3 linked regions of the Homo sapiens genome follow. The protein of the gene in region 1 interacts with the protein of each later gene in a pairwise test. Each region holds a gene or a part of one and is shown in the gene's direction. Other genes may lie near its edges.

Region 1 (9,269 bases):
TGGGCTCGATTTCTCACCGGCCTTAGCTGCCTCCCTGCGGGGCATGGCTCGGGACCTGCAGCCCGCCATGCCTGAGCCTCCCCCTCTCTGTGGGCTGCTGTGCTGCCGGAGCCTCCCCGACAAGCACCGCCCCCTGCTCTACGGCGCCCAGTCCCATCGACGACCCAAGGGCTGAGGAGTGCGGGTGCACGGCATGGGAGTGGCAGGCAGCTCCACCTGCAGCCCAGGTGCGGGATCCACTGGGTGACGCCAGCTGGGCTCCTGAGTTTAGTGGGGACCTGCAGAACCTTTATGTCTAGCTAAGGGATTGTAAATGCACCAATCGGCACCCTGTGTCTAGCTCAGGGTTTGTGAATGCACGAATCGACACTCTGTATCTAGCTACTCTGGTGGGGAGGTGGAGAACCTTTGTGTCTAGCTCAGGGATTGTAAACACACCAATCAGCGCCCTGTCAAAACAGACCACTCGGCTCTACCAATCAGCAGGATGTGGGTGGGGCCAGATAAAAGAATAAAAGCAGGCTGCCTGAGCCAGCAGTGGCAAGCTGCTTGGGTCCCCTTCCATACTGTGGAAGCTTTGTCTTTCTTTGCAATAAATCTTGCTGCTGCTCACTCTTTGGGTCCACACTGCCTTTATGAGCTGTAACACTCACCACGAAGGTCTGCAGCTTCACTGCTGAAGCCAATGAGACCACGAACCCCCCGGGAGGAATGAACAACTTGAGACGCGCTGCCTTAAGAGCTGTAACACTCACCGCGAAGGTCTGCAGCTTCACTCCTGAGCCAGCGAGACCACAAACCCACCAGAAGGAAGAAACTCCGAACACATCTGAACATCAGAAGGAACAAACTCCGGACACGCCACCTTTAAGAACTGTAACACTCACCGCGAGGGTCCACGGCTTCATTCTTGAAGTCAGTGAGACCAAGAACCCACCAATTCCGGACACACCAGCTACTAGGGAGGCTGAGGTGAGGGGATCACCTGAATCCAGGAAGTCGAGGGTGCAGTGAGCCGAGATCATGCCGTTACACTCCAGCCTGAGTGACAGAGTGAGATCTTGTGTCAAAAAAACAGAACAAAATAAAACAAGAACGTTGAATAGGCTGTGTGTTAATTCTGAGATGGAGTCCAGACTTAAGAATGATCCTGAGGCTTAGACCCATATCCAAGAGGATGATTCCAGCCTGGCACTTATAGGTTCTTCAGGCACTTCAGATGCACCCTGTCCTGAATTAAGCCCTTTGTCCTTGAACCTGCTTTCCTTGGTAAACAGCACCAAGGGGGCTAGAAACCTGGGGGCTGCCCTTACCTTCCCTCTCTCACCATGCACCTCTAATGGGTGGCTGGACTTGTGGTTGCATTTCCGTGATCTCCCAGCTTTCTTCCAGTGATGGCCTTAGGTGGGCTCTTATCCTGTCTCCCAAATGGCCTCTCTGCCTTGAGTCTCACCCCATCTGCTCTCAGTCCACCCACTGAGCTATTCCAGAGACCATTCTGACTCCCTGTGGACACCCCTCTGGTGGCTTCTCCTCTCTGTCAGTTAGAAATTGCTTTTGACTGCATGTAACAAATGTGGTTACGCTATTTAACCAAATAAAGGTTTATTTTTCTCGTGATGAAAAGTACACAGATAAGCAGCCTACTTCCATCGATAACCATTGAGGGTTTCTTATGACTCTTACAGCAATGAAATGTGTATTTACAGTATAAAGATATACAATTTTAAGGTTTTAATATAATTGGGCCTAAGCACAGTATTTTTTGTTTTAGTTTTCAACTGCCCAGGTGATTCTATTGTGCAGCCAGGGTTGATAAACACTGCATCTAGGCCCAGTGCCTTTGATTTGCAGCTGAGGTCTAGAGAGAATTATTGAAACTGCAGTCCCAGCTACTTGGGAGGCTGAGGTTGGAGAATTGCCTAAGCCCAGCGGGGTGAGGCTGTAGTGAGTCAAGACTGCACCACCGCACTCCAGCCCGGGCGACAGAGCAACACTCCATCTAAAAAAAAAAAAATTTCTGGTCTACCTTTTTGCCCACCTTTTAACCACAGAGGTCCCCAAACATGAATTTTCACTCTCAGGAAGGCTGAAATGACACATTACAAGCGGTTTAGTCATCTGCACGTGCCGCCATCTGATTTAAGGCATCTATTCCTCCTCACCATTCCTGACAAAGTTGAACTGTCTACATGTGCCACATTCTCCTCTTTCTCTAATTCCTTCCCTCCTTCCCTCCTCCCTTTCTTCCCTCCCTCCCTCCTTCCTTCTTCTTTCTCTTTCTTTTTCTTTCTCTCTTTCTCTTTCTTTCTCTTTCTCTCTCACTCTCTTTTCTTCTTTCTGACAGGGTTTGCCTGTTCTGCTTCTTTAAACCCTGGGGTTCAAGTGCAAAGGTCCCTCTCATCTGATTTCCCTATTTTATTTTATTTAAGTTAGATACTCCACGATGATGATGATGATTATTGTTGAGACAGGATTTCATTCTGTTGCCCAGGCTGGAGTGCAATGGTGCGATCACAACTCACTGCAGCCTCAACCTCCTGGGCCCACGCGATCCTCCTACCTCAGCCTCCCAAGTAGCTTGGACTACAGGGGTGTACCACCATGCCCGGCTAATTACATGTGCCAGATTCAACCCACGTTCCAGGGTTCCAAACAACCAAGGCTCTATCATCCTGTCTTAACAAATATACCTTCATAAAGACCTGGAAGGCAGGTTGAAATGTGGAATTCTTGGACTTCTTTCAGTTCTACGTAGAAGGGTAGCAGTGGAGAGCTGGCTGCCTGCCCGCCCCTGGCCTTTCCTCCTTTCCCCACCCCTGCTCCTTGTGGCACTGGGCAGGGCCTACGTTCAAGGCTAGCAGTGTACTCAACAAGGGACAGTCCCTGTGTGGCCTGTTCAGGATCCTATACACAGGCTCAGGGCTCTTTGGGCAGGAAATTCCAGGATCCGGGTACTCAAGTGGTGTTCTAAACAGTGGTTCTTGGCCGGGTGTGGTGGCTCACACCTGTAATCCCAGCACTTTGGGAGGCCGAGGCTGGCAGATCACTTGAGGTCAGGAGTTCGAGACCAGCCTGGCCAACATGGTGAAACCCCATCTCTACTAAAAATACAAAAACTTAGCCAGGCATGGTGTGCACGCCTGTAGTCCCAGCTACTCGGGAGGCTGAGGCAGGAGAATCACTTGAACCCAGCAGGCGGAGGTTGCAGTGAGCTGAGATTGCACCACTGCACTCCAGCCTGGTGACAGAGTGAGACTCCATATCAAAATAAATACATAAATAAATAAAAACAGTGATTCTTAACTGGGAGTGATTTGGCAACGTCTGGAATTATTTTTGGTTATCCCAGCCTGGCAGGGAGGGACAGGGTATTACTGGCATCTAGTGAGTAGGGGCTAGGGATTCTACTGAACATCCTACAGTGTACAGGACAGCCTCCACAGCAAAGAACTGTCTGGCCCAAAATGTCCATAGTGCCCACATTCGATGCCCTGCATTAGGAAGATATAAATACTCTTAAATATCACAGAGTTAAATTCCTTACCCCTGTTCTAGCAGAGATGATATTCTTGCGGGGGGAGCATCTTCTTGGCTTCAACACATTCTTTTCTCCATGGGAGATGATGCCAGAAGAGGGACAGAACAGGGCCCAGTAAAGCATGGGGCCTGGGGCCAGGGACCCCCTTGTTCAGGTGTGACGACCATCCTACGAAGGCACCACCCAGGCATCATTAGACCGTCTCAAAAGAAGAGTAATTCACTGTCCCAAAGCAGCTCTCTCGTGTCTGTGGGCGGATCCCTTGGCAAGTTTACAATGAACTGAAATCTGCCGAACTTCCTGGAACCCAAAGAAACTTTAGCCTTGGGCAAAGGCCCTTTGGCCAGCATTTGCACTGTTTATGCAACCGTTTAGAATATACGAATTATCTGGAGACTACTACCAAATACAACAGGCAAAACTGCAAATATGTATACTTCCTAGAGGATGATAAAAAAATGTGAATTGTATTTCTCTGATAGAGGATGCATTAGAGTCTGAGGGTCTAAATAGCGTAAATAATAAATAAGTAAATAAATCGATAGTAGTGTACTCCAAACGAGGCTGGAATAGCTTCTATTGTTGTTTCACACTGGACTTCAATTAAGTCTCAGTATTTTGCCATACTCAATATTAAGTACTAGGCTGGACGTGGTGGCTCATGTCTGTAATCCCAGCACTTTGGGAGGCCGAGGTGGGTAGATGGCTGGCTTGAGCTCAGGAGTTTGAAACCAGCCTGGGCAACATGGTAAAACCCCATCTGTACCCAAAATACAAAAATCAGCCAGGTGTGGTGGCACATGCCTGTGGTCCCAGGTACTTGGGAGGCTGAGGCAGGAGGATGGCTTGAACCCAGGAGGTGGAGGCTGCAGTGAGCTATGATGGCGCCACTGCACTCCAGCCTGGGTGACAGAGCGAGACCCTGTCTCAAAAATCAAACAAACAACCCCCTCGCCCCGGACAAAAGTAGTTTGCACTATTTTCTCATTTCACAATATGTTTTTGAAATATTTCCCTTGAAAGGTAAGTCATATTTATCATTCCTGTTGTATGGAGGCATCATAAATTATTTCACCATTCTACCCTCCTTGAGTGTTGTGGCCTTTAGGCCAGACAAAAACGCAGGTGATGCCTAGAAGCCAACTAGTTGCCGTTTGGTTATCTGTAGGGTTGTGGCCTTGCCAAACAGGAAAAATATAAAAAGAATACCGAATTCTGCCAACCAAATAAGAAACTCTATACTAAGGACTAAGAAAATTGCAGGGGAAGAAAAGGTAAGTCCCGGGATTGAGGTGTAGCGACTTTCTATACCCTCAGAAAACTAAAAAACAAGACAAAAAAATGAAAACTACAAAAGCATCCATCTTGGGGCGTCCCAATTGCTGAGTAACAAATGAGACGCTGTGGCCAAACTCAGTCATAACTAATGACATTTCTAGACAAAGTGACTTCAGATTTTCAAAGCGTACCCTGTTTACATCATTTTGCCAATTTCGCGTACTGCAACCGGCGGGCCACGCCCCCGTGAAAAGAAGGTTGTTTTCTCCACATTTCGGGGTTCTGGACGTTTCCCGGCTGCGGGGCGGGGGGAGTCTCCGGCGCACGCGGCCCCTTGGCCCCGCCCCCAGTCATTCCCGGCCACTCGCGACCCGAGGCTGCCGCAGGGGGCGGGCTGAGCGCGTGCGAGGCGATTGGTTTGGGGCCAGAGTGGGCGAGGCGCGGAGGTCTGGCCTATAAAGTAGTCGCGGAGACGGGGTGCTGGTTTGCGTCGTAGTCTCCTGCAGCGTCTGGGGTTTCCGTTGCAGTCCTCGGAACCAGGACCTCGGCGTGGCCTAGCGAGTTATGGCGACGAAGGCCGTGTGCGTGCTGAAGGGCGACGGCCCAGTGCAGGGCATCATCAATTTCGAGCAGAAGGCAAGGGCTGGGACGGAGGCTTGTTTGCGAGGCCGCTCCCACCCGCTCGTCCCCCCGCGCACCTTTGCTAGGAGCGGGTCGCCCGCCAGGCCTCGGGGCCGCCCTGGTCCAGCGCCCGGTCCCGGCCCGTGCCGCCCGGTCGGTGCCTTCGCCCCCAGCGGTGCGGTGCCCAAGTGCTGAGTCACCGGGCGGGCCCGGGCGCGGGGCGTGGGACCGAGGCCGCCGCGGGGCTGGGCCTGCGCGTGGCGGGAGCGCGGGGAGGGATTGCCGCGGGCCGGGGAGGGGCGGGGGCGGGCGTGCTGCCCTCTGTGGTCCTTGGGCCGCCGCCGCGGGTCTGTCGTGGTGCCTGGAGCGGCTGTGCTCGTCCCTTGCTTGGCCGTGTTCTCGTTCCTGAGGGTCCCGCGGACACCGAGTGGCGCAGTGCCAGGCCCAGCCCGGGGATGGCGACTGCGCCTGGGCCCGCCTGGTGTCTTCGCATCCCTCTCCGCTTTCCGGCTTCAGCGCTCTAGGTCAGGGAGTCTTCGCTTTTGTACAGCTCTAAGGCTAGGAATGGTTTTTATATTTTTAAAAGGCTTTGGAAAACAAAAATACGCAACAGAGACCGTTTGTGTGACACTTTGCAGGGAAGTTTGCTGGCCTCTGTTCTAGGTCATGATTGGGCTGCAAGGGCAGAGAAGGTAGCCTTGAACAGAGGTCCTTTTCCTCCTCCTAAGCTCCGGGAGCCAGAGGTTTAACTGACCCTTTTGGGGATTTTTGAGGGCAGTGATCTTAACTTTGGGTGCACAGTTAGCTTATTTGAAGATCTTACTAAAAATACACCAGAGCCCAACCTCCGACCAATTACATCAAAACCTGTCCTAGTGCAGGGTGAGTATTGCTGTTTTTTGAAAGTTTCCAAAAGTGATTTTGATGTGCACCTACGATTGAGAACTGTCGTTTGAGGACAGTGGGTGGAGTTTCGTATTTGGAAATTAGAAGACCTGGAGTTTCCATTACACCGAATTGGCACTTAATAACTGTTGTCGGAGCATTTCTTAAGCCACATTTTCGTAAAGTGGCTTTAAAATTGCTCTGCCAGTAGGCAGGTTGCTAAGATGGTCAGAGACAAACTTCTGAACGACTCTTGTAAAATATACAGAAATATTTTCAGAACTTTTATCAGTAAAATTACAAAACGTGTTGCAAGGAAGGTGCTTGTGATAACACTGTCCCCAGAACCTTAGTGAAGTTACCAACTGGTGGAAAATTTTCTCTTGCACTCGGCTTAAAAATCATGAGGGAATATTTACTATACGAATGAGATTCAGTCTTTAAAGGGGTTTACAGAAACGTGAGAGGACAGGAACAGTTAGTCTGTGTAAATGTCTGAAATATATGTGAGGGAGATAATGAGTTTAGCCTTTTTCTTTAATAGGTCTCCAGATTTTCTGGAAAAGGTTCTTTGGCATTTGACTCCATTTTGCTGTTTCATTTGTCAGACTTCTTTTTGTCCCTCTTTACTTCTCCCCACATAATTCACCAGTACTAGTGTTTTGTTTTTCAGACCAAGTCTCGCTCTGTCGCCCAGGCTGGAGTGCAGTGGCGCGATCTCAGCTCACTGCAACCTCCGCCTCCCAGGTTCAAGCAATTCTCCTGCCTCAGCCTCCCGGGTAGCTGGGACTACAGGCGCGCGCCGCCACGCCTGGCTAATTTTTTATATTTTAGTAGAGACGGCGTTTCACCATGTTGGCCAGGATGGTCTCGATCTGTTGACGTCGTGATCCACCCGCCTCGGCCTCCCAAAGTGCTGGGATTACAGGCGTGAGCCACCCCGCCCGGCCACCAGTGCTATTCTTAAGACGCCTCTGAGGAATCCCTTCTCCCTGGCCATTGAGAATCCATGCATGAACCCAGGTTTTCCACCTTCCCTGAGCAGCTTGCATAGTTCCTTCTTTTAAGCGCCTGACTTCGTTTTGTTTGGTGCCCGTTGTACCTGAGAATGAGCCTTGGATAGTGGAGCATTCCAGCTTTCCAGATATGCAGAGATAATACATTGGCTATCAGCTACTTGGCTTGGCCTATTCCGTGTTTAAAATCTTGGACTCTTTGCTAGTTTTTACAGATCAGAATTTTTCACGTATTAATCCAGTTTTCCTAGCTTCTCTTGAAGAATTTTTGGAGATCTCTTCATACTGAGCCTTCATTAGCCCAGGACAGTACTGCTGTAGCAGTTCATATATTTTTTCGCTTCCCAGGCCTGTGTTATTCACTTAAGTTCATAGCCTGGTCCCTGCAGGGTTGTACCCGAGCACAGCTACTTAGATGTCCTGAATGTATTACCGGTTAAATGGAGGTTTCAAAGAACCTGCTGTTTTTGGCCCTGTGCTCTTGATAACAGAGTGTTTGAGGGACAACTTTCACATTTGAGTTTTTCCAAAATTAAAGGTTGTAGAAGAGTCACAGTATCTATTGTCAAAAAGAAAAGAATTTAAAAAGGCAGCAATTGCCAGGATACTTCATTTGAGCAATGATATTTTCCAGTGGAAAGTCACATCTTAAGGGTTAATGCCCCTTAACTGTTGGCCGTATTTGAAAACAAACCAAGCTAAAAACAAGAGACACTGACATGTTGTATGACGGTGTGGTGTGGATGTTGTGTTTATTTTAGTCCTGAGATCTAGTTGTAACTTCCTTGATTTCTGTATGTAGCCACGGAGCACCATTACCTGTCACCATTACCTGAATGGCTATACTGCTTGCTTTCATTTTGGTAGAGTGGAAAGGTTACCTAGGTTTCAGTGCTTGAAAAGATTTCAGAAAGCAGTAGTACGTCTGGTTAGACTAGAATCAGTCCTCTCCTGGGGGCAGTGGAATATAATATTTTCTGACTGCTAATTAAAAATACCTGTGATAGCCGGGCGTGGTGGCTTACGCCTGTAATCCCAGCACTTTGGGAGGCCGAGACGGGTGGATCACGAGGTCAGCAGATGGAGACCATCCTGGCTAACACGGTGAAACCCCGTCTCTACTAAAAATGCAAAAAAATTAGCCGGGTGTGGTGGTGGGCGCCTGTAGTCCCAGCTACTCAGGAGGCTGAGGCAGGAGAATGGCATGAACCTGGGAGGCGGAGCTTGCAGTGAGCCGAGATCATGTCACTGCACTCCAGCCTGGGCGACAGAGCGAGACTCGTCTCAAAAAAAAAAAGAAAAAAACTTATGATGGACACTTAAAAACACTCACTGAGTGGGGAGTGGAGAGCAGGGGTCCCAGGGTAGCCTGTTGGACATTTCCAGGGCGACTTTTTCTTTTTTTTTTTTTAAAGTCAAGTGAGTATGCCATATGGAAAAGGGTGTGCGTGGAGAAAAAGCAAGGGGCTCCAGAGTGTAGGATGAGACATACACCTTTTGGGTTAAAAAGGCTGAGGCAGGAGAATGGCGTGAACCCGGGAGGCGGAGCTTGCAGTGAGCTGAGATCATGCCACTGCACTCCAGCCTGGGCGACAGAGCGAGACTCTTGTCTCAAAATAAAAAACGTTTACATGTACATGTATATTCAACATGTACAAATATAACCTATTCAAAAGTATTTACTACATAAATAGGTACTTACATTACCTATTTACTGTAATAGTCAAAGCCTATGAAGTATCTAACACTGATGTGTAGGTACTCACTTTGCTTGCCACTCTATTAGGTGCTTTTTATGTTATTTAATCATGAAGCCTGGCCACAGGGTGCTTGTGCATTGAGTGTGGGAACAAGATTACCATCTCCCTTTTGAGGACACAGGCCTAGAGCAGTTAAGCAGCTTGCTGGAGGTTCACTGGCTAGAAAGT
Region 2 (4,712 bases), on another chromosome or scaffold:
GGGGGCATGTGAGTCGGTTTAGTGGGCCCGATGTGACCAGGCCAGGCGGGGAGCAGCGTAGACGGTGAAATGCTTTTCATTACTGAACATGCTTTGGGAATGGCATGAGAACTCTTTCAAAGACTCAGGACCCGTTTGAGGCTTTATGAGGGGCAGGTCACCTGAAGCTTTGGGTTTCAGAAATAGACCATCCCCTCTCCCATCTGTATCCTGAGTTAAACTGGGGAAGCTGAGATGTGTCTAGATCCTCCATTTGGGCTGACAGCAGGTCTGCAGGGGGAAAATGCCACTGCCCCTTGTGTTGGCCTGGGCAGCTGGGGTGGGGATGGTTCTAGCACTGTGCTGTAGGTGTATCTGACCTACCATCCTGGGAGTGGCCCAACTCTAGGGATGAGCTGGGTCATACGGCAGGGATCACCCAGAGGAAGGTAGACCTCCATCATCCTCTGTGCTTGGATGAGAACCTCACATCTTGGACCCTTCCTCGCACTCCCGAATTCTCTAAACTCATCTCTAGTCCTCGTTCAGAGGTGCATCCTTCTTTTACACCTGGGGCCAGAGAGGAGGACCTGGGTTAGGAGGGAAAGTGAGCTGGTTATTTCCCTTACTTTTCTGCTTCTTCGCCTCCTTTAGGTCCCGTCTGAGGTGCCCCTGACCGTCCCTGCCCTCACCCCACCCCGGATCCCGGCAATGCTAACCGCTGTCTGCGGCTCTCTGGGCAGCCAGCACACGGAAGCGCCGCACGCCTCCCCGCCGCGCCTCGACCTGCAGCCTCTCCAAACTTACCAGGGCCACACGAGCCCTGAGGCCGGGGACTACCCCTCCCCGCTGCAGCCTGGAGAGCTGCAGAGCCTCCCGCTGGGCCCGGAGGTGGACTTCTCGCAGGGCTATGAGCTGCCAGGGGCCTCCTCGCGGGTAACCTGCGAGGACCTGGAAAGCGACAGTCCCTTGGCCCCGGGCCCCTTTTCCAAGCTCCTGCAGCCGGACATGTCACACCATTATGAATCGTGGTTCAGGCCGACTCACCCAGGCGCGGAGGATGGCTCGTGGTGGGACCTTCATCCGGGCACCAGCTGGATGGACCTCCCCCACACTCAGGGCGCGCTGACCTCACCTGGCCACCCGGGGGCGCTTCAGGCGGGCTTGGGGGGCTACGTCGGAGACCACCAGCTTTGTGCCCCGCCACCCCACCCGCATGCGCACCACCTCCTTCCAGCTGCCGGAGGGCAGCATCTCCTAGGGCCGCCCGACGGGGCTAAGGCCTTGGAAGTAGCCGCCCCGGAGTCTCAAGGGCTGGATTCCAGCCTGGACGGGGCGGCGCGTCCCAAAGGCTCCCGGCGGTCGGTGCCCCGCAGCTCAGGCCAGACCGTCTGTCGCTGCCCCAACTGTCTGGAGGCGGAGCGACTGGGGGCTCCATGTGGGCCCGATGGGGGCAAGAAGAAGCATTTGCACAACTGCCACATCCCGGGCTGCGGGAAAGCCTACGCCAAGACGTCGCACCTGAAGGCGCACCTGCGCTGGCACAGCGGCGACCGTCCCTTCGTGTGCAACTGGCTCTTCTGCGGCAAGCGCTTCACGCGCTCGGACGAGCTGCAGCGCCACCTCCAGACCCACACCGGCACCAAGAAGTTCCCCTGTGCAGTCTGCAGCCGCGTCTTCATGCGCAGCGACCACCTGGCCAAGCACATGAAAACCCACGAGGGCGCCAAGGAGGAGGCGGCTGGGGCGGCCTCGGGAGAGGGCAAGGCCGGCGGCGCAGTGGAGCCCCCCGGGGGCAAAGGCAAACGCGAGGCCGAGGGCAGCGTGGCTCCCTCCAACTGAGCTCCTCAGTGCCGCCTCCCTGCGGGTATCCCGGGGGGCACTGGATGCGAGCCCCCAGGTCTGACGTCCTTGGGGGTGGCTTGAGGAAGAGGGGAAGGTGCGTATTTATTCAGGGAGGAGGAAAAGTGGTGCAGGGACAGGGAGATGGGGCGCTAGGGGTTCTTAGTCTCTGGGGCTACTAGGCAGGATGAATTTGACTGGGTCGGTAGGAGCTGCGCAATGCCCCTCTGTTCTCCCCTGCCTCACAGTTTCCCTCGCCCCTGGGCTGGGGGGTTGGGGTGGGACACCCGTACCGCGGCTGGCTGGCGGGGACAGGCTAGAGGAGACAGCAAGTCCCAGTCCCCGGAGCAGAGAGAAGTGGGGCCGGCCCGGGGCGCTGGTGGTGGCTGTCTGGACACGTCCTTAGCGCCTGGGAACCAGGACATAAAAGCGCCTCCGGAGCCGCCCTGCGGCGGGGTCCCTTTCATCCCACTTAAAGTGCTTCTGCCCCTAGGGTTTCCGGAGGGAGAGCCGAGATGGGATGGGGGAGCCTGGGGGTCCCCCTTGGCAGGGGTGTCTCTTTCTGGTTTGGAGGGTTGTTGCTGTAAAAATAACTCCTTTGATGAGCTTCCTTATTAACCCTTTCAGACCCAGTCTGTTGGAGCCATGAAGGAAGAGGGAAAGAGGGCTGCCATTCCTGACAGCCTCCCAGCCAGGGCTGGCGATAAAGGACCGAGATAGATGGAGGGGGCGAGTAGGGAAGTCCTCTTCTAAAATGAGAGATAGGGATTTGGTGGGGTATGGAAGGAACTAACCCCTTCCCTCTCCACCTCTGATTCAGCCCTTAATTCTTGGTCTATGATAAATAAAGTTCAGTAGTCTCACATTCCCCATCTATTACCCTAGGTGTGTTTTCAAGGCAGCCAGCGGTAGAATCCATGTAGTTCCCACCAGTTGCCTTCCCCTCAGGGATGGAAGGAAGAGGGTTTCTTGGGCTGGTTGAGGGCAGATTGGGGGTGTCTCATCAGAGGGACCTCCACTGGTTCCCACTCAGAGTGGAGGCCTGCAGCCTACCTGACCATCTCTTTAGCTGTCACCAAGAAAATAAACCCCACTGTCTCTCTAGCTTGGCCCTTGTCTTTCCCTTGCCCCTGCCATAGCATGTTCATTAGGGGATTCCTTCCTCCCCCTCATCTCACAGGGGAAGGGAGAGGAAAGAGTTGTTCTCCCACTGGAAGGGGTTCTGCCTTCTGAGGTGACATCCAGGAAGCTGTCCCCATTCCCTTCTCCTTTAGATGCTAGAAACACATTTTGATTCTGATCATGGGGTGGGGGAGAGAGGAAAGGAGGGAGGGGAGAAGCCCAGCAGAAGCTGAGCCAGGCAGAGGGGAAAGAAGCTGATATGAGGAAGGGTCTGACAGGCCACAGCCCTTGCAGCCGGAGGGCTTTCCCACACTCAAGAGAGGGGCCTTACAGTCCCTCTGACACCCCTCCCCCTTCCCCTCGCTCCCTTTCTTCACCCGGAGCCCTCTGCAGAGATTAGCTGTGTATTGATTTTTAAGTTATAAGCAAAGGGTATTTTATTTAATATTAGGTTATGTGTGTGCATGTTGTGTGTACCTGTGTGCATGTATGTGTGTTTCTCTACTGAGCCTGGGGTCTCTAGCCAGGGAGACCCCATCTTATTCACCATGTCCAAGATCCTGGGATCTGGGCCCAGCATCTCTTCCTCCTTTGTAGATGCTGGAGCCCAGCCAAGGTCTGGGAGCTATATGGGAAGTGGGGGCTGGGATCTGGGTGGGAATATGTGTTTGTATACAAAGGGGCCCTCCTTAAAAGGGACAGGATGACCTTCCCGAGGAACTCATTGGCCTGGGGTAGTTTAAGAAGTAATGTTCTTTCTTTCTTTCTCTTTTCCCTACCTCCTGCTAACCCAACCAGAGATCCCCTTCCTTGCTGAGAGGGTTGGGGGCAGGAGGAGATTTGGCAGTGCCTGCAGGTTGCCTGGCCAGGTGGAGAGGGGGAAAGAGGAAGGGCACCGTGGGTGTAAGATGCCTTTCTCCTCCACCCATCGAAACCAGCCACCCCTTCCCTGTGCCACCAAGACAGCCTTTTCCAGTGGCCATCCTAAGGGGAACTCCCAAATGGGTGTTGCTGGTGGACACAGATGCTCCCCCCAATGGAAGCCCCAAGCTCTGAGGTATGCGGGTAGAGGCTTTGGATAGGTTTTCTTCTGCTCCCCTCTTTTATAGATCTAGGCTGCTTGGCTGCCTGTCTTTCTAGGCAGTCCCCCTAGAGGAAAAATGTAGGAATTTATTTTTTCTTTAACTGCTGTGAACTCACTTTGAGGGGGTAGGAGGAGGGAGAAACAGCCTGTGTTTTTTATGCAATAAAGTCATCAACTACATCATGCTTCCTTTGTGTTCCAGCTCTGTTTCCTTTTTGACTCAGTGTCCCTCAGCAGTGAGGACCAGGTCTGGGCCACAGAGTGGGGTGGATGCTTCCCAGTGATCCTGCAGCCCCTTGGAAAGCCTCATGTCTATTGAGTTGGGTTGGAGCTGGGGTCTGATCCTGCCCCAGAGGTGGCTGGTACAGAAGGAGGGAGGTTCTTCCTCTGGGTTGGTACCCGGGCTGTCCCTCCCTGGTCTCATACCTGTGGTTATGAGAAGTTTCTAGATATCTCTTTCCTCTTCCACATACAAGCCCCTTCTTTCCCTTCCCCTGCTAAGAACACTGGTTCCCTCTTTCCCAGGCACTGGCTCCCTCACTCCATCCCCATAGAGGGTGCATGTCAGTCCATCCCCTGCCTGTGACTGAGCTGGGGGTGATTGGCAGTGATTACTTCACCCAGGATGATCCTTATCAGGGACAAGGCGATGAAAGGCAGCCGAGCTATCTGATGGGCTCCTGCC
Region 3 (7,956 bases), on another chromosome or scaffold:
AAGCCGGCCGTGTGCTCGCTGCTGCCCAAGGAGGCCAACTGCGAGGGCTTCATCGAGGAGGCCGTGCGCTACCACAACAACCTGGCGGCCCAGCCCGTCATGCAGACCAAGCGCACGGCGCTGCGCACCAACCAGGAGCGCCTGCTGTTTGTGGGCGGCGAGGTCTCCGAGCGGTGTCTGGAGCTCAGTGACGACACCTGCTACCTGGACGCCAAGAGCGAGCAGTGGGTCAAAGAGACGCCGCTGCCCGCCCGGCGGAGCCACCACTGTGTCGCGGTGCTGGGGGGCTTCATCTTCATCGCCGGCGGCAGCTTCTCACGGGACAACGGAGGGGATGCGGCCTCCAATCTTCTTTATAGGTATGACCCCCGCTGTAAACAGTGGATCAAGGTGAGATTAAAGCCAGATTATTTCTTTTCTCTTGAGGACTCTCTCGGTTTCCTTAACCTAGCCTTGACTTTCCTTACCTCTCTGGGGCCTTGACAACTATCCTGCTTCTGAATGAGGTGTGATGATAAAGTGACGAGCAGAATACCCCGGGGCCTACATCCTGGACAGGGAGAGGGAGAGCCGACCCACCCCTTCGAGGGGTCCGTCATCGTTCAGAGCAGCACTGCCTGGCGGGGCTTTCTGTGCAGATGGAAGGGTCTGTCTGTACTTCCCGATACGGTAGCCACAGCCGCATGTGGCGACTGAGCACTTGAAATGTGGCCAGTGCGACTGAAGAAGTCAATTTTCAATTTTATTTCACTTTAACCGATTGACGTGTAAGTGTATGTGGCCGCACGAGGCGTGGCTACCCTATTGGACAGTAGCATGGGTCTAGATGTTTGATCCATGGTTCAACATCCCCAGGTCCTGGAGTCTCTGTGGGGCTCCTCTGGAAGCATTTTGGGAGATAGTTTAAGGAGACCACTAGTGCTCACGCCTGGCCCTTGGGCATGTATTGTGTCCTGATTCTGGGAAGAGCGTGGGCCTTGATGTCAGACCTGAGGTCTCATCCCAGCCTGGCTAAGTCATAGCTAGGAAATTTCAGATTCTTGTCCTCTCCACATTTTGGATTCCCCTTCTGGGAATACGTGGGGGACAGGGAGTGCAGTAGCTCATGTTGACTGGCAAGCCCCTGGCGTAGGGAAGGTGTCTCCTTTCTGCTGGGAGCGCTCTCCAGCCACTCGGTCCCCGGGACAGTCCATCTCAGCCTCTATACTCACACCTCAGCGTCGCGCCCAGCTCAGTGCTGTTCTCAGCTCAAAACCCAGTCAGAATGGACTCCAGCTGACCTTTTGATTTTACTCTCAGAAATCTGAGACTGCCCTCCAAGGTCGAAGTGTCACCACTGGAAAGGGTCCCTGGCTTTGGAGCCTCCTCCCGAAGCCTGGCAGCAGTGGCAGCAGTGTGTTTGCCTTGGATTCGTTTAAAAAAAGAAAAAAAAAAGTTGGCTCTTCTACTTTTTGTGTGTGTGTGTGTGAGACAGAGTTGTTCTGTCACCCAAGCTGGAGTGCAGTGGCACGATCTCGGCTAATTGCAACCTCTGCCTCCCAGGTTCAAACAATTCTGGCGCCTCAACCTACTGAGTAGCTGGAATTACAGGCGCCTGCCACCACGCCCGGCTAATTTTTGTATTTTCAGTAGAGACGGGGTTTCACCATGTTGGCCAGGCTGGTCTCGAACTCCGTGACCTCAGGTAATCCACCCACCTTGGCTTCCCAAAGTGCCAGGATTACAGGCGTGAGCCACCGCGCCCAGCCTCTTCTGTTTAATTTCCTGTCGAATGCCACGTCCTGCTCTGTTAACACGGAGTGGCAGAGCAGCACTAACTTTACAAATCTGATGTGGGGAGAGGAAAGATGAATTTTTATTTCATAAAGCCACTAGATCAGCAATTCTGACCCCTGTGACCACAGAGTTCCCATCCACGCGGCTAACGACATGACCAGAGAAGTTCGGGGGTTCAGAGCATCTCCATCCCCCTTTTGGGGACTCAGAGCGTCTCCATCCCACTTTTGGGGATTCAGAGCATCTTGGTGAAACCTCGGGGGCTCAGAGCTCCCACCTGAAGAAGCCCTCTTTATTCAGGTGCAGTTCCCTTTCCCAAACATTCTCCGGGGTTGTGCATTCCGCAGACACATTTGGGAACCGCAGCGCCAGATGTTGATGCTGTCCCGGGTTCGGGGAAGGGAAGGTACAGGTATCTCAACTCCACAGGTGGCCTCCATGAACCAGCGCCGTGTGGATTTCTACCTTGCCTCCATCGAAGACATGCTGGTGGCCATCGGCGGCCGGAATGAGAACGGAGCGCTCTCTTCAGTAGAGACGTACAGTCCCAAGACTGACTCCTGGTCCTATGTGGCCGGCTTGCCAAGGTGATCTGGGGCTTGGTGGAAGGTTCTCCAAATGGGATGTTTTTAAGGGACATAGTTCAGTCCACGTGCCTCACTTTCTGGGCATGTTGGCCTCCAATTCCAGGAATGAAATCTTCCGGCTTGTCAGGAAGAGTGGGTACACCATGAGGGGCGGAGGGCGTGACGGTGCACAGTCCGGGCTCCGGTTTCAGACTTAGGGCAAGGGTCAGCTCTGCCGCCATGACGGACATCCCTCCATGGCTGAGTGTGTGCAGTTGCTGAGCTTCAGAGGGTGAGGCCTGACCTGAGGATCTCCCTGAGCTTGGGCAGGAGGAGTTCAAAGAGATGGGGGTATATGTGCTAGATCTAAGCCTCAGGCATGGGTCTTCACCCCGCTCGGCCTTTAGTTCCTCATCTGTAGAGGTAGACGATAATGATACCCACCCCACAGCACTGTTGTGCAGAGCAGATGCAGTGCTGCTTGTGAAACCTGCATCCACATGCAGGGAGTGCCCCAGGGTGGCCGCCTCACCCTCCTCAGTCTCCCCTGCGTTCCGATGTGCATGTATCGAGCATTTATTATCTCCATGGGATTAGCAGAAGGTGCACACCATTTTTTCCACCAGTTCCCTGTTGCCGCACCCAGCAGTGCACTTTCTGAACCAGTCTTTGCTGTGGAATACATCCAGGTGTCCGTAAGAGTTAGAAGTGTGTGGGGTAAGCGCTCGTATTTTTGTTTTTCTGAGAGAGAGTCTCTCTCTGTCACCCAGGCTGGAGTGCAGTGGCGCGATCTCGGCTCACTGCAATCTCTGCCTCCTGAACTCAAGCAGTTCTCCTGCCTCAGCCTTCTGAGTAGCTGGGACTGCAGGCGCCTGCCACCACACCCAGCTAAGTTTTGTATTTTTGGTAGAGACAGGATTTCATCATGTTAGCCAGGCTGGTCTTGAACTCCTAGCCTCAAGAGATCCACCCACCTCACCCTCACAAAGTGCTGGGATTACAGGCATGAGCCACTGCACCTGGCCATATTGATCCTTTCTTATTCACTAAAGGCCCTGGTTTACATCAGGGTTCCCACTTCCTGGCACAGTTGTGTGGGTTTTGAGGAACACAAAGCAACATGAATCCACCATTACAGCATCACGCAGAATCATTTCACTGCCCTAAAGCCCACTGTGTGCGTGCTGTCCATCCCTCCCTCCCCTCTCCCCACAGTCCTGGCAGCCACTGATTTTGCTGTCTCTATGGTTTTAGGCAAAACTTTTCCCGAGTGCCAGCACAGTTAGAATTGGACTGTATGTCGTATTTCCTCTTTGATGTGTGATTCATCGGGTGCATGTGTGCCTGCTAGCTCATTGTTCTAGTCGTTTCCAGCCATTGTGAAAAGGGTGATGGTCCTGTGATTATTCCCATTTCCCAGATGGGGCAAGGGAGACTCAGAGAGAGTGAAGCTGGGTTCTGGCCCAGGCGGCCTGACTGCAAAGCTGTCCACTTCCCCGCCCTGCCCTGCCATTTCTTTGCTAATGACGGCTACTGTCTATAGAGTGTTCATGGGGTGCCCACTCCCTATATTCTTAAATCCTCATGGCCCTCTAAGACGGCAGGCTGTTCCCCGGCTCGGAGGGGGTAAGCCTGGCACAGCCCTGAGCTCTCCCTCTGTCTCTGCCCGTCGACCCTGCAGGTTCACGTACGGCCACGCGGGCACCATCTACAAAGACTTCGTGTACATCTCGGGGGGCCACGACTACCAAATTGGCCCCTACCGCAAGAACCTGCTATGCTACGACCACCGGACAGACGTGTGGGAGGAGCGGCGGCCCATGACCACGGCGCGCGGCTGGCACAGCATGTGCAGCCTGGGTGACAGCATCTACTCCATCGGGGGCAGCGATGACAACATCGAGTCCATGGAGCGCTTCGACGTGCTGGGCGTGGAGGCCTACAGCCCGCAGTGCAACCAGTGGACCCGCGTGGCGCCGCTGCTGCACGCCAACAGCGAGTCGGGCGTGGCAGTGTGGGAGGGCCGCATCTACATCCTGGGCGGCTACAGCTGGGAGAACACTGCCTTCTCCAAGACCGTGCAGGTGTACGACCGCGAGGCCGACAAGTGGAGCAGGGGCGTCGACCTGCCCAAGGCCATCGCTGGCGGGTCCGCCTGTGTCTGCGCCCTGGAGCCACGGCCAGAGGACAAGAAGAAGAAAGGCAAAGGCAAGAGGCACCAGGACCGGGGCCAGTGACCCTAGCTGCGCCTCTTGGGACCATCCTCACCGTCACCTCCCAGGGCTCTGTAGACCAGCAGCAACTTCTTAGTATTCCGGAAACATTATGTACAACTTAGCAGCTTTTTTTACTTTTATGATTCTTGGTATTTCTATGATATCACAGTAACCAATTAAATACTATCTGTAACTTTACATATCTTGCTTGAATAACTAACCCTGGGCCCAGGCAGTGAGCAACCCCTTGTATCTTCACAGGTCTTTGCCCCGTGTTATGATTCCTCATGGGTCCTTGCTGACTGTCCCCCTGAGAGTAGCTGGCACGTGGGTAACACAGAAATTTCTGTAGTGAAGCTTGGGCCTCAAAGGGTTCTCTTAGGCCACCTAGTCCAAGCCTCCCCAAACCTGGCTGAACTTTTAAGAATACAGATGCGTGAGCCCCGCTCAGAATTATGGAATCCAAAACCACCAGGAACGGGGAGGAGGTGGTGCCCAGAAGCTGTATTTTAACTAGTTCTTGGAATTCTGGGTATTAGTCACATCTGGGAATCACTGGCAAGGTCCAGTGTGTTTGTTTTATAAATGAGTGCACAGAGACCACCCATGAGGGTGAGTGAGTGAGTGACCAGGGGCCACGCAGCTCGCTAGACTGTCAGATGAGACATGATGACTTCCCGCTGGGGAGCTGTTCTCCGTATCAGGTGAACGCTGTTTCTGAATAATTCCGTCTTTCCTCATTGGAAACCTTCTTGAATTCTAAAACGTTACAGGTAACCAAAAACGAAAAAAGGTATGAAGCTCTTTATACATATTTTTTTGTAATTTGTGCATTTTTTTCCTTTTTTTTTTTTCTGAACCCACTGTCTTTTATATTACTGATGTACTGAGCTCCCAAATCTGTTTATTTCTCAGGAAAGAAAAAGTGAGTGCTATGGAATTTGCCATCGTTCTCTGTGACTCTATCTTGAGGCGCTGTTGAAAGTTCCTGCACAGAGGAGCACATGTGGATCCCTGAGAAGGCAGTGGAGGGCTCCCTAACTCCCACGCCAGGTCCTGCCCCAGTTTTCTGCTTCTAAGTAGTTTCGTGCTGCTGGGCAAATTCTCGAACAAGTCCGTGTGTTCCCTCATCCACCCCGCTTAGCCACAGGATTAGATGGAATACCCTCCAGGCTCCTCCCGGGTGATAGGGCCATTCAGCCTCTGAGCTGTTCGTACCCGGATGGCATCCCCTTCAGGATGTGGAGCTGGCCTGCACTGACTCCTGCAAACAGTTCCTAAAGCAGGTGTCAGGGTCGCTTGCCCTTTAAGAGGGCTCTTAGCTGCCCGAGTGGATGAGAAACGTGCAGAACTATGGGAGGATAGGAGTGTGATGGGTTTTAAGCATGAGCCAAGGAAGGCATGAATGAGCTGTACCTCACCCAGCATCCGATGGCAGAGATCAGTAAACTTCAAGATGTGCTTCATCTTCAATCCTAGTCTAACACCAGTCTTCCTGCAGACAGTTCCGAGAGCAGGTCTCGATGTCACTTGCCCTTTAAGAGGGCTCTCAGCTGCTCGAGTGGATGAGGATCAATGTGTTAAGATTGATATTAGACTAGGAAAAAAATCTTAGTTAACTTTAATTTCCATTTCTTCTGCTTCTTTGCTGCCCCTCCTTTCCCTTCCCTTCAGGGTTTACTGTGGTTCTCACTGGTCTGTTTATGTAGCCATCCAGAAGAGATGAGAGCATTTTGGGGACTGAAAGCTTCAATAGCCAACTTACTGCCCTCTGTGGTTAGTGAGGAGGGCAGTCTGCATGTTCAGCTAGCTAGTTATTTGCATGTGAAGTCCCTGGAGGCTTACAAACTGTTGAGAGGTTCTGCGAGGCATACAAACAAACAGACCAAAAGGCTGGAAACTCTGCTTGGAGCTCTGCAGCATTCCGGTGTATGAAAGGTTCCGAGAAGTCTCAACCCAGCATTTCCAAACTTCTTTGAGCCTAAAAGTCGTTTGTCTCATACCTAGTCCCAGACCCCCACAAAACATGTTTTGCAGAACTTCTGCCAACTTTGGGATAGCTTACCCCCTTCCTATTCGGGAAAGGTTTTATTGCTTGTAGACCCCTCAGAAGGCAGGGTAGGGTGTACGTGGGCTGTTCTCCCCATCTCAGCCTGGGTCATGAACAAACGGGCAGTTGTTTGGCCTGAATCTCGGGGCAAGTTGGGGAGAGCACATAGAAAGACTCTGTGAGTGATTTGGGGAGTGGGATAGCTTTGACCTTGGAGAGAGGAGAGCCATTGGTTTTCAGCCTAAGCCAGCTCTTTTATGTTTTGCTTCTGGGACTTGTCCCTGGAAATGTGTGAGCTTCTGGCCTCTATTCTGATTTTCTTGTGCCTCATGAGTTACATACGACGTCCTGCGCTTCATATTTTGTGGTGTCTCTCCTGATACTATGAAGGTGGTTTGTAATTGACATGGCTTTGACCCTAATATTACTAAGGTTGGGACCACCCTTTTAAAGGGAGGATAAACAAGTTTCATCTTGTGGGTCAACTTCTAATATTTGATGGTGGCTACACTGTGACAAGAAAGGTTTTTGAGCTTGTTGGGGTCAGTGGATGGGCACAAGGGCACCCAGTGGTGGTGCCCGGGCCAGGTTTTTGTTACTTGTCTTTTTAAGTTGAAAATTCACCCTACTGTGCATGAAAATGGAACTGAAAATGGAAGAGACCATGCCTGGGCAACATGGCAAAACCCCATCTCTACAAAAAAATTACAAAAGATTAGCCAGGGATGGTGGGGCATGCAGTAGTCCCAGCTGCTTAGGAGGCTGAGGTGGGAGAATCACCTGAGCCTGGGAGGTTGAGGCTGCAGTGAGCTATGACCACACCACTGCACTCTAACCTGGGTGACGGAGTGAGACCCTGTCTCAAAAGAATAAAATGTTTTTTAACTCAGATGGGCAGAGTTTGGGCTGTGCTTATGCAGTGGCCATTTGAACCGCACAGTCACGAATGTGGGGTTTTAAACTAGAGTGATGAAGGCACAGGTGCTTGCAGGCTGCCATTTTGAGAGGGAAACAGCCACACATGTCATCATGTTAAACTTTCAGTGTTTCAAGCTATTCTGCTTGAATTTTGAAGACACCTGGATCTTTTTTTTTTTTTAACATTTCAAAATAAGCATGGCAGGCTTCTATTGAGGTTTGGACTTCTCTCATTTCTAAAGAATTAGAGTTGTAACTTCATATTAGTTGTAAGTTTGGGGTTTGGTCCTCACCCAAGTTGGAAAGCTGTTTGCTTAAGACATAGATGTATTATAATAATAGAAGGGAGGGAGTAGAAAGCTGATGAACCCTTGTTACTTATAGCAAACTTCCTGCTGTTTTAAATGCACAGAGATTATTTTATCAACTG

Evidence for each region. Proteins that work in one complex are often made in the same cells at the same time.
Region 2: the proteins of SOD1 (region 1) and SP6 interact in binary tests that used the Homo sapiens proteins (3 or more experiments, as listed by UniProt).
Region 3: the proteins of SOD1 (region 1) and KLHL36 interact in binary tests that used the Homo sapiens proteins (3 or more experiments, as listed by UniProt).

Annotation. Positions count from the first base shown.
Region 1 is NC_000021.9:31,654,387-31,663,655, forward strand, and holds the start of SOD1 (superoxide dismutase [Cu-Zn]), read left to right. Parts: upstream 1-5,306; 5' UTR 5,307-5,383; coding exon 5,384-5,455; exon of another isoform or gene 5,456-5,638; intron 5,639-9,269. UniProt on the Homo sapiens protein: Destroys radicals which are normally produced within the cells and which are toxic to biological systems.
Region 2 is NC_000017.11:47,844,408-47,849,119, reverse strand, and holds the end of SP6 (transcription factor Sp6), read left to right. Parts: intron 1-633; 5' UTR 634-690; coding exon 691-1,821; 3' UTR 1,822-4,212; downstream 4,213-4,712. UniProt on the Homo sapiens protein: Promotes cell proliferation. Plays a role in tooth germ growth. Plays a role in the control of enamel mineralization. Binds the AMBN promoter.
Region 3 is NC_000016.10:84,657,555-84,665,510, forward strand, and holds part of KLHL36 (kelch-like protein 36), read left to right. Parts: coding exon 1-390; intron 391-2,205; coding exon 2,206-2,363; intron 2,364-4,023; coding exon 4,024-4,579; 3' UTR 4,580-7,956.